3 separate regions of the Homo sapiens genome follow, and all the other regions are linked to region 2. The links come from fine-mapping of genetic effects on gene expression. A gene starts in region 2. Each other region holds a variant in brackets. All regions are shown on one strand. Distances are from middle to middle. Region 1 overlaps SPTBN5 (spectrin beta, non-erythrocytic 5). Region 2 holds the start of SPTBN5 (spectrin beta, non-erythrocytic 5). Region 3 holds the start of EHD4 (EH domain containing 4).

The links. PIP is the estimated chance that this variant, and not a neighbour inherited with it, causes the effect.
Region 1: its variant is fine-mapped to the expression of SPTBN5 in cerebellar hemisphere (GTEx, PIP 0.98).
Region 3: its variant is fine-mapped to the expression of SPTBN5 in whole blood (TOPMed, PIP 0.98).

What each region holds. Positions count from the first base shown.
Region 1 is chr15:41,858,090-41,860,843 of GRCh38, reverse strand. SPTBN5 (spectrin beta, non-erythrocytic 5) reads left to right here. Exons shown (of 68, transcript NM_016642.4): 47 at 86-258; 48 at 1,864-1,954; 49 at 2,096-2,242. Among named protein-coding and RNA genes, the nearest start is that of MIR4310, 7.1 kb to the left of the region's middle. The variant T/C (reference allele first, on the strand shown) is at 1,104.
Region 2 is chr15:41,892,558-41,895,311 of GRCh38, reverse strand. SPTBN5 (spectrin beta, non-erythrocytic 5) reads left to right here and starts at 1,259. Exons shown (of 68, transcript NM_016642.4): 1 at 1,259-1,413; 2 at 1,766-2,030; 3 at 2,251-2,418. The coding sequence starts at 1,815. It overlaps LOC105370792 (a long non-coding RNA gene), which reads right to left and starts at 2,535. Exons shown (of 4, transcript NR_135681.1): 1 at 2,234-2,535; 2 at 1-85. RefSeq lists an enhancer at 2,415-2,474.
Region 3 is chr15:41,972,043-41,974,796 of GRCh38, reverse strand. It overlaps EHD4 (EH domain containing 4), which reads left to right and starts at 2,240. Exons shown (of 6, transcript NM_139265.4): 1 at 2,240-2,538. The coding sequence starts at 2,303. PLA2G4E-AS1 (PLA2G4E antisense RNA 1) reads right to left here and starts at 2,034. Exons shown (of 4, transcript NR_120334.1): 1 at 1,799-2,034; 2 at 839-993. RefSeq lists silencers at 2,189-2,318, 2,359-2,428, 2,529-2,754. The variant C/T (reference allele first, on the strand shown) is at 1,409.

The DNA of each region.
Region 1 (2,754 bases), 34 kb after region 2:
TAGGATGGTTCTAGGTGGGAAGGCAGGTAGCCTGGGATGGGAGGGGGAGGCTCATGGACAGTATTGGGTTCCCCACTCCCACCAGGACCCCTTGGCCCCCATGGAGCCCCTTCTGTGGAAGCACAAGATGCTGGAGTGGGACCTGGAGGTGCAGGCGGGAAAGATCAGTGCTCTGGAGGCCACGGCCCGCGGCCTGCACCAGGGTGGGCACCCCGAGGCCCAGAGTGCCCTGGGCAGGTGCCAGGCCATGCTTCTGAGGTAGTGGTGGCTCTGGGGTGAGGGGTGCTGTGGGCAGGCTGGCACAGGCATCTGGCATCCCGGTTCTTCCCTTCCCACCCTTCCACTACTTGGCCCAGGCTCACCAGCCTTGTCCAAGGACTGAGGTCAGATGCCGGGGGTCCCCACCACCCCTGGCCCTGCAATGTGTCTGCCTGTTATGGACATCAAACACCACGTGGAAAATCCCACTTCCTTCTTCATTCAGTTGAGATCAAAGGGAGTTTAAAGAGAGGCTTATGCTAGGAGACCAAGAGGAAATCATCTCACGAAACGGAAGGTCGCAGGGCACAGAGGTCAAGCATCGGCCTTCCAGGGTCACAGTCCTGAGTCCCTGTGCTGCCCACTAATGGCAGGACTCAGACAAGTTCCTCCTCTCGGCAGCTGAGCCTCACATCCTGGGCTTTAACGGCTGTGATGAGGACGAAAGCACTGTGCTGGCCCCACAGGCAGGCTAGCAGAAGTCTTAGTTCATCTAACTGAAGTTCAGACACAGATGCATGTGACCTGCATGGCCCATGAGACCCCAGCTCTGCAGTTCTTTTTCCCTGTAAAAGCTCATCAGGTTTGGCTGCTTCATGCAGCTCCTCAGACTTTTAGATCAAGGCAGATACGGTCAAAAGCCAGATCCCAGACTGGTGGGGGCTTTTGTCCTTCTCAGAGAGCCGATCAGAGAGCCAACCAGCACCCACAAATGCCATGGCTCCTTGTGCTGGTGTCCTGGCAGTGGTCGCGGCCACCCCCTCTCCATTCTTGCAGGTGGACCACACCTGGGTACCTGTGGAGGTCTTTGAATTAACAGAATGCAAACTTTGCTTTGCTGGTCT[T/C]TGTCACCACCCCCTACCCCAGTCACCTTAGGTGGTTCCTGGCAGGCTCAGCTTCCCCCAGCACAGTGCCACCCTGACTTCTAGCCCCTGGCTTCTGCCCTCCTGCAGGAGGCAGATCGTCCCCCTGTGCTTGTGTCTGCCCCAGTTGCCTCCTCTCATAAGGTCACACTGGATTAGGACCCACCCATATGACCTCATTTTCACTTAATTACCTCTTTTAAAGACGCTGTCTCCAAAAACACTTCTGGAGTTAGGCCTTCAACATAAGAACTCAGTGGTACAGGCTGGGTGCAGTAGTTCACGCCTGTAAACCCAGCACTTTGGGAGGCCGAGGTAGGTGGATCATTTGAGGTCAGGAGTTCAAGACCAGTCTGGCCAACATGGGGAAACCCTGCCTCTACTAAAAATACAAAATTTAGCTGGGCCTGGAGGTGTGAGCCTATAGTCCTAGCTACTCGGGAGGCTGAGGCAGAAGAATTGCTTGAACCCGGGAGGTGGAGGTTGCAGTGAGCCGAGATTGTGCCACTGCACTCCAGCCTGGGTGACAGAGTGAGACTCTGTCTCAAAAACAAAAACAAACTTGGGGGTACAAAATCCGGCGCATAACAGACACAAATACAGAGGGGGAGTGCAATGTACCTTTATTCCAAAGGAAACTCCAGACTCAGAGTATATTCATACCCGAGAAAGCCTAGGCTGGACGGGCACCCCACCTGGCCCCGGGGGTGGCTCCAGGCCCATGAGCCTCTCCTCCTGGCAGGAAGGAGGCGCTCTTCAGGCAAGCCGGGACCCGCCGCCATCGCCTGGAGGAGCTCCGGCAGCTGCAGGCCTTCCTGCAGGACTCCCAGGAGGTTCGCCTCGCTTGGAGAGGGAGGCGGTCATGGTGGGGAAGGAGTCGACCCAGGGAAAGGCCACCCTTCCTCTGGGGTATCCCAGAGGTCAGGGGAAGGGGAAAGCCCTGGACAGCAGGCCTGTCCTCCCCATGTGCCCAGGTGGCTGCGTGGCTGAGGGAGAAGAACCTGGTGGCCTTGGAGGAGGGTTTGCTGGACACAGCCATGCTGCCAGCACAGTTACAGAAGCAGCAGAATTTCCAGGCGGAGCTGGACGCGAGCATGCACCAACAGCAGGAGCTGCAGCGGGTGAGGCCCTGCAGGCAGGAGGGTGGTGGGACAGCTCTCCAGGCAGAACACAGGACAGTGCCCCAGAGCTGGTGCTGAACCACAGTAACGGTGGCCAGCGTTATCCAGTACTTTCTGCATGCAGGCACCTGGCTAAGCGGTTGTTTAGGCAGAAGTGTAGTGAGAAGAAGTTGCTTTCCGGCGGGCAGGGGGGGCACCCTCTCCAAAAATGGCAGCTTTTCATTAATTTTAAAGATAACATTTTGATGTGAACAGGACATAGCCACCAGTCCTGTGAGCGAAGGAGTCAAAACATAGCCACTTTGAGACAGGGTCTTGCTCTGTCACCCAGGCTGGAGTGCAGTGGCAAGATCTCAGCTCACTGCAACCTCCGCCTCCCAGGCTCAAGTGATCTTCCCAGCTCAGCCTCCCAAGTAGCTGGGATCACAGGCCCACACCACTACATCCAGCTACTTTTTTGTATTTTTGGTAGAGATGGGGTTTTGCCATGTTGTCCAGGCTGGTGTTAAACT
Region 2 (2,754 bases):
CAAGGCCTGGCTGAGGCAAGGTCTGGCAAGTCTGGATTTTCCTTCCCAGGCTGTGGGAGGCTTCACAGGCACGAGCAGAGCTGCACTGTGGAAAGGTGCGGGGTGGTGGTGTCCAGGATGCCGAGTTAGGGGGTCCGTGATGAGGACCCCCAGGGGCAGTGAGGGCAGAAGGGGGGGTGCACGGGAGGACCGCCACAGCAACTGCTGCGAGCAAGGGAGGGACGCAGGGTGTCTGGAAGCCAGCCGCTGCAGAAGGGGCCTGGCAGGGAGAGGACAGCAGGAGAGGAAGCGTCTCTCAGACGCAGGAAGCCGCACCCCACCCGAGACCACGGCACCTCTCAGCGTCACCCCTGACTGCCTGCAGTGGGCCCAGGCGGTTCAAGTGTGACTCATCCCTAGCCCAGCTCTCAAGGGCGCGCTGAGCGGCTGTCCTGCTGTGGGCTGTGGCTGCCAGGAGCGCCTCCCTGAGGAGCGGGCTGTCGCTTCAGAGGCTCCAGGGCCGCTGGAAGACACCCACACACACACACCCCAGCCCACACTGCTACCCTGAGTTTAGCCAGAGGCGGGTGAGACCCCCAGAATTAGAACTCGCCTTCACTCTGGCATGTAGTCCACGGCTGCTCGGGGAGGAAGGGATGGGCGCCCACCAGCTCCCTCTGCACCCCTGCCTCCGAGCCCCGGGCCACGGCCAGCTCTGTGGAGCCCAGAGTTAACACCGTGTCTCTAATTTTGGAGGAGACTCCACAGCCCTCGCAGTTCCAGGTCACCCCTTCCTCCAGGGAGCCTACCCTTCAGCCCCGGGCTAGGCAGGCTGCACTCTGGCAGGGCCTGGAAAGCCAAGCCCAGGGTCTGTGAGGCCCTCAGTCTATGGGCTGTTCCCTGGGGGTGAATGAGAAGACCACGGCCCAGGACGCTCCCTCATCCCCTCGCCCTGGGTGCTCACAGAGAGGCCCCAAGAGGGTACAGAGGGCAGTCTCAGATTGGGAAGTGCGTCCACAGGCTTCCCACAGAGGCTCTGCCCTTTGGTACCTCCTACGCAGACTGCAGCACCCCATGCGGTGGCAGGGCCGCTCCATGGGCCTCTGCGTCCTGGGAGCCAGGACCCCCACCTGGAGTTGGAGAAGTTGCTGGCGGGGAAGGGAGGATGATGAAGGAGGACATCATCTGGCAATGGCCCTGGAGCATTCCTGAACCACCCCCTCCCTGTCTGGGCCACGCCCTGTGGCAGGTGGGAGGACAATGCCGCCTGTGTGCCGTCACCCCAGCACGCTGGCTCAAGGGGAGGGCTGTGGTGCAGCCCTGCTCCAGCCTTGGCCTCTCCTGATGTCCCTCTCCCTCCCTCCACAGCCCCTGCTATCTGCCATCTCCATCCGTCCAGCTGGGCCGCCTCTGTGGAACCCAGGCATCACCAAGGTAAGCAGCCCCTGCTATCTACCATCTCCATCCGTCCAGCAGAGCCGTCTCTGTGGGACCCAGGCATCACCAAGGTAAGCAGTTTCCTGTCTTCCTTCCACCTGTCCCAGTCACTGTGGTGGAGGGACCTGGCAGCAGGGGCTCTGAGAAGAAGAATCTGGAAGGTGGGGTGGGGCAAAGGGGGCCCTGGGCCATTCAAGCACAGGGGACCAGAAGCACTGGCCCTTACCTGGCTGGGCTCCAAGCTGCAACCCCCATGAAATGTGAGGACAGTCTGGCAAGGCGGGACCCCAGGCCCCTGGTAGAGGGGCCATCTCCATTCACATCATCCCCTAATCTGCATGCCCTCCAGGTTTAGGGAGCCATCCAGCAGCTCCTCATCCCCAAAGTCTGCAGGGCTGATGGCTGGTCAGCCCCACAGTCCCCGGGAGCTCCTCGGGGCTGCAGGGCACCGCAGCAGGAGGCCCAGCACAGAACTCCGGGTCCCGCCCAGTCCAAGTCTCACCATGGACTCTCAGTACGAGACGGGCCACATTCGCAAGCTACAGGCCCGGCACATGCAGATGCAGGAGAAGACTTTCACCAAGTGGATCAATAACGTCTTCCAGTGCGGCCAGGTGAGTATAGCCAGCTGTGACCCACAGCCCACCCATACCAGGCCCCCAGCTCTGGCCAGTGGGCCTCCGGGGTGAGCTGTGGGGTCATCTGCCTGAGGCCAAGCTGAGGCCAGAGCTCCTTCTTCCAAAGCAGCTGCTCTGGGTCGTACCTCTCAGGTCCCAGGATGGGAGGACAGGTGAGGCTGGGCTGACCCCATACTTACCCCTGTCCCCTCCCCAGGCGGGCATCAAGATCCGGAACCTGTACACAGAGCTGGCTGACGGCATCCACCTCCTGCGGCTGCTGGAGCTCATCTCAGGGGAGGCCCTGCCACCCCCGAGCCGGGGCCGCCTGCGTGTGCACTTCCTGGAGAACAGCAGCCGAGCTCTGGCCTTCCTCAGGGCCAAGGTGGGCCCCAGGGAAAGGGGTCTGGGATGGTGCTGGGGCAGGCAGCTGGGACAGGCTGAACTACTGGGTCACCTTTCCTGCGCCAGGCCACTGGGCAGAACAGAGGAGCTGGGGCCTGAGTACAGGAGGAGTGGCTGGGACACAGAGGAGCAGAAGCCACGCCCTCCTCGCACAGCACCCCTGACTTGGAGAGCACCCAGCTGGCCATGGCAGTAGCAATCCAGGTCCCTACTGGGGTGGAAAATGTCACTGTCTGTCATAAGAGAGACTCACAGGATTCTAGGCCAAAAGAATCTTAGCGTTCTCTTAGGCTTTTCATTTCACAGATGAGGAAAC
Region 3 (2,754 bases), 79 kb before region 2:
GTACAGTACATAGCATTTTCGGATTGGCTTCTTTCACTTAGTAATAGGCATTTAAGTTTCCTCTGTGTCTTTTTATGGCTTGATAGCTCATTTCTTTTTAGTGCTGAATAAGATTCCATTGTCTGGATGTACCACAGATTATCCTTTCACTTACTGAAGGACATGTTAGTTGCTTCCAATTTTTGGCACTTATGAATAAAGCCACTATGAACATCCATGTACAGGCTTTTCTGTGGATATAAGTTTTCAATTCATTTGGGTAAATACTAAGGAGCTGATTTCTGCATCATATGGTAAGATTGTATTTATATCCGTTTGTTTTTATGTATTCTAAAAAAATACATCGAAGCTTTTACTTTTGTTGTCAAATATGTCAGCCTTTGCTTTCATAATTTCTGTCCTTAATGTTGGTTAGAAAGGCTTTTCCACCGCCAAATTGTATAAATCTCTTGTACCTTCTTCTAGTAGTGCAGTGGTTTCATTTTCTTTTTACATTTCAATCTTTGTTTTATTTTGACACAAGGCAGATGTCTAACTTTATTTTCCCTTGGCTTTCTTTTCACTTCCCTAGTTACATACAATTCCCTCCAACTATGTGACCCACACAACAACTCCAAAGGAGTTTCCATTTTGCTCTTAAGGAAACTAGGGCAGAGAGGTAACTCATCACATTTAAAATCACACAGCCATTAATTTACATAGTCAAGGTTCAAACCCAGATCTTTTGATGCAAAGTCCTGTTCTCTCATACTCCAAGTATGGTCCAGGGATGGGTAGCATTGGCAATACCCGAGAGCCTGTTAGAAATGTAGAGTCATGGGCCCCATCCCATACCTACCGAATCAGAATCCGCATTTCTGTTAGGTTGGAGAAGTACTGCAGGGTGTACTGTTTCCCCAGACTTAGGCCACATCAGAGTCACCTAGGGCATCTGTTGAGCTCCATCTCTCCTCAATATTTTAACTCAGTAGGTCTGGACTGAAGACCAGGAATCTGCATTTTAACAAGCATCCCAGCTCATAAATGCATATATGCAGGTGGCCCCATGGATCACACTTGAGAAATGCTCTAAAACAACTAAGAAATATTCCTAAGCTACAATCAAGGACACAAAAGGTGATTATTTCCCCCAATCTCAACTTAGATAAGTGAGTATCCTTTTAACCTAGAAAAGAAACAGGCCAGGGGCGGTGGCTCACGCCTATAATCCCAATACTTTGGGAGGCCAAGGCAGGCGGATCATCTGAGGTCAGGAGTTCAAGACCAGCCTTACCAATATGGTGAAACCCCATCTCTACTAAAAATACAAAAATTAGCTGGGCATGGTGGTGAGCGCCTGTAGTCCCAGCTACTCAGGAGGCTGAGACAGGAAAATTGCTTGAACCCGGGAAGCGGAGGTTGCAGTGAG[C/T]CGAGATCGTGCCACTGCACTCCAGCCTGGGCGACAGAGCGAGACTCCGTCTCAGAAAACAACAACAACAACAAAAAACAGCTAGGAGGTGACAATGACTCACATGTCAATATGTGGAAATAAAGTTGTAATAATGAGGATAATGTAATAATGAGAGTAATGACTAAATTTTCGGCTTTACAGAAAAACACATAAAGAAAACTAAGGGGAAAAAGCCTTTAGCTGATCCAGAATTTAGTGAGGGCAATGTGGAGAAGTAGGAGAAACGGCTACTCAAATAGATTCCAGTCCACTTCCCCTCAAGATTGTGTCAATTATGCCCGTGAGCCTGGGTCTCTTGGCCTGTAAAACGGAGTCATAACCACCCGCCCCCGGGAAGACAGAACCTGCCTGTCCACTTTCTGAACTTTTCATCCCCAGTATCGACGTCCAGAGGCCTGAATGAGTAAACGTTCCAGGAGATGGAGCAGCCTCCGGAGGCTCGCTTTGGGCAGCTCAGATTTACCCGGAAGCCGATGCCACCTGGCCAGAGGTGAGGCACCGGCAACCAGAAGGGGGCCCTGAGCATGACCGGTCAGTGCCACCCGGCCGGGAAGACACCATCTCCCCGCCCAGTCCTCTAGAATGACTCCGTCATCAATAATTCATTAAGAACCTCCTCTCAATTGGCTGACGCCTTCAGCCCTCTCTGGCAGAGATCCAATCAGGAAGGACCTGAGAGAGCTCGTCTGAATAGTGGGCGAGCGCGCGTGACGTAGCGGCCGAAGACTGGCTGTGGCAGCACAAGGCGGGGCCCTCCTCGGGCGGCGGCCAGCGCGGCCGGGGCGGCTCAGTGCGAGCCGGGGAGAGTCGAACCCGGAGCAGGGTCCCATCCGAGCGTGGACTGGCGGCAGGATGTTCAGCTGGATGGGGCGGCAGGCGGGCGGGCGCGAACGCGCTGGCGGCGCGGACGCGGTGCAGACGGTGACGGGCGGGCTGCGCTCGCTCTACCTGCGCAAGGTGCTGCCGCTGGAGGAGGCGTACCGCTTCCACGAGTTCCACTCGCCTGCGCTGGAGGACGCCGACTTCGAGAACAAGCCCATGATCCTGCTGGTGGGCCAGTACAGCACCGGCAAGACCACCTTCATCAGGTACCGTCACCGCCCCTCGCCCGGCTCCCGCCCCGCTCCGCCCTCCCCACGTGTGCGCCGCAGTCGGCCGCCTCCCGCCGCTGCCCCTCCCGGCCGGCGCGACCTCGGGGACCCCTCCCGGAGCTCGGCGCCCGGTGCCCTCGGCCCCGCCCCGGCTGGCCAGCCCCGCGCGCTGGAGGGTCCCGCGAACCCGCGCCCTGCGCACTCCGAGCCCTC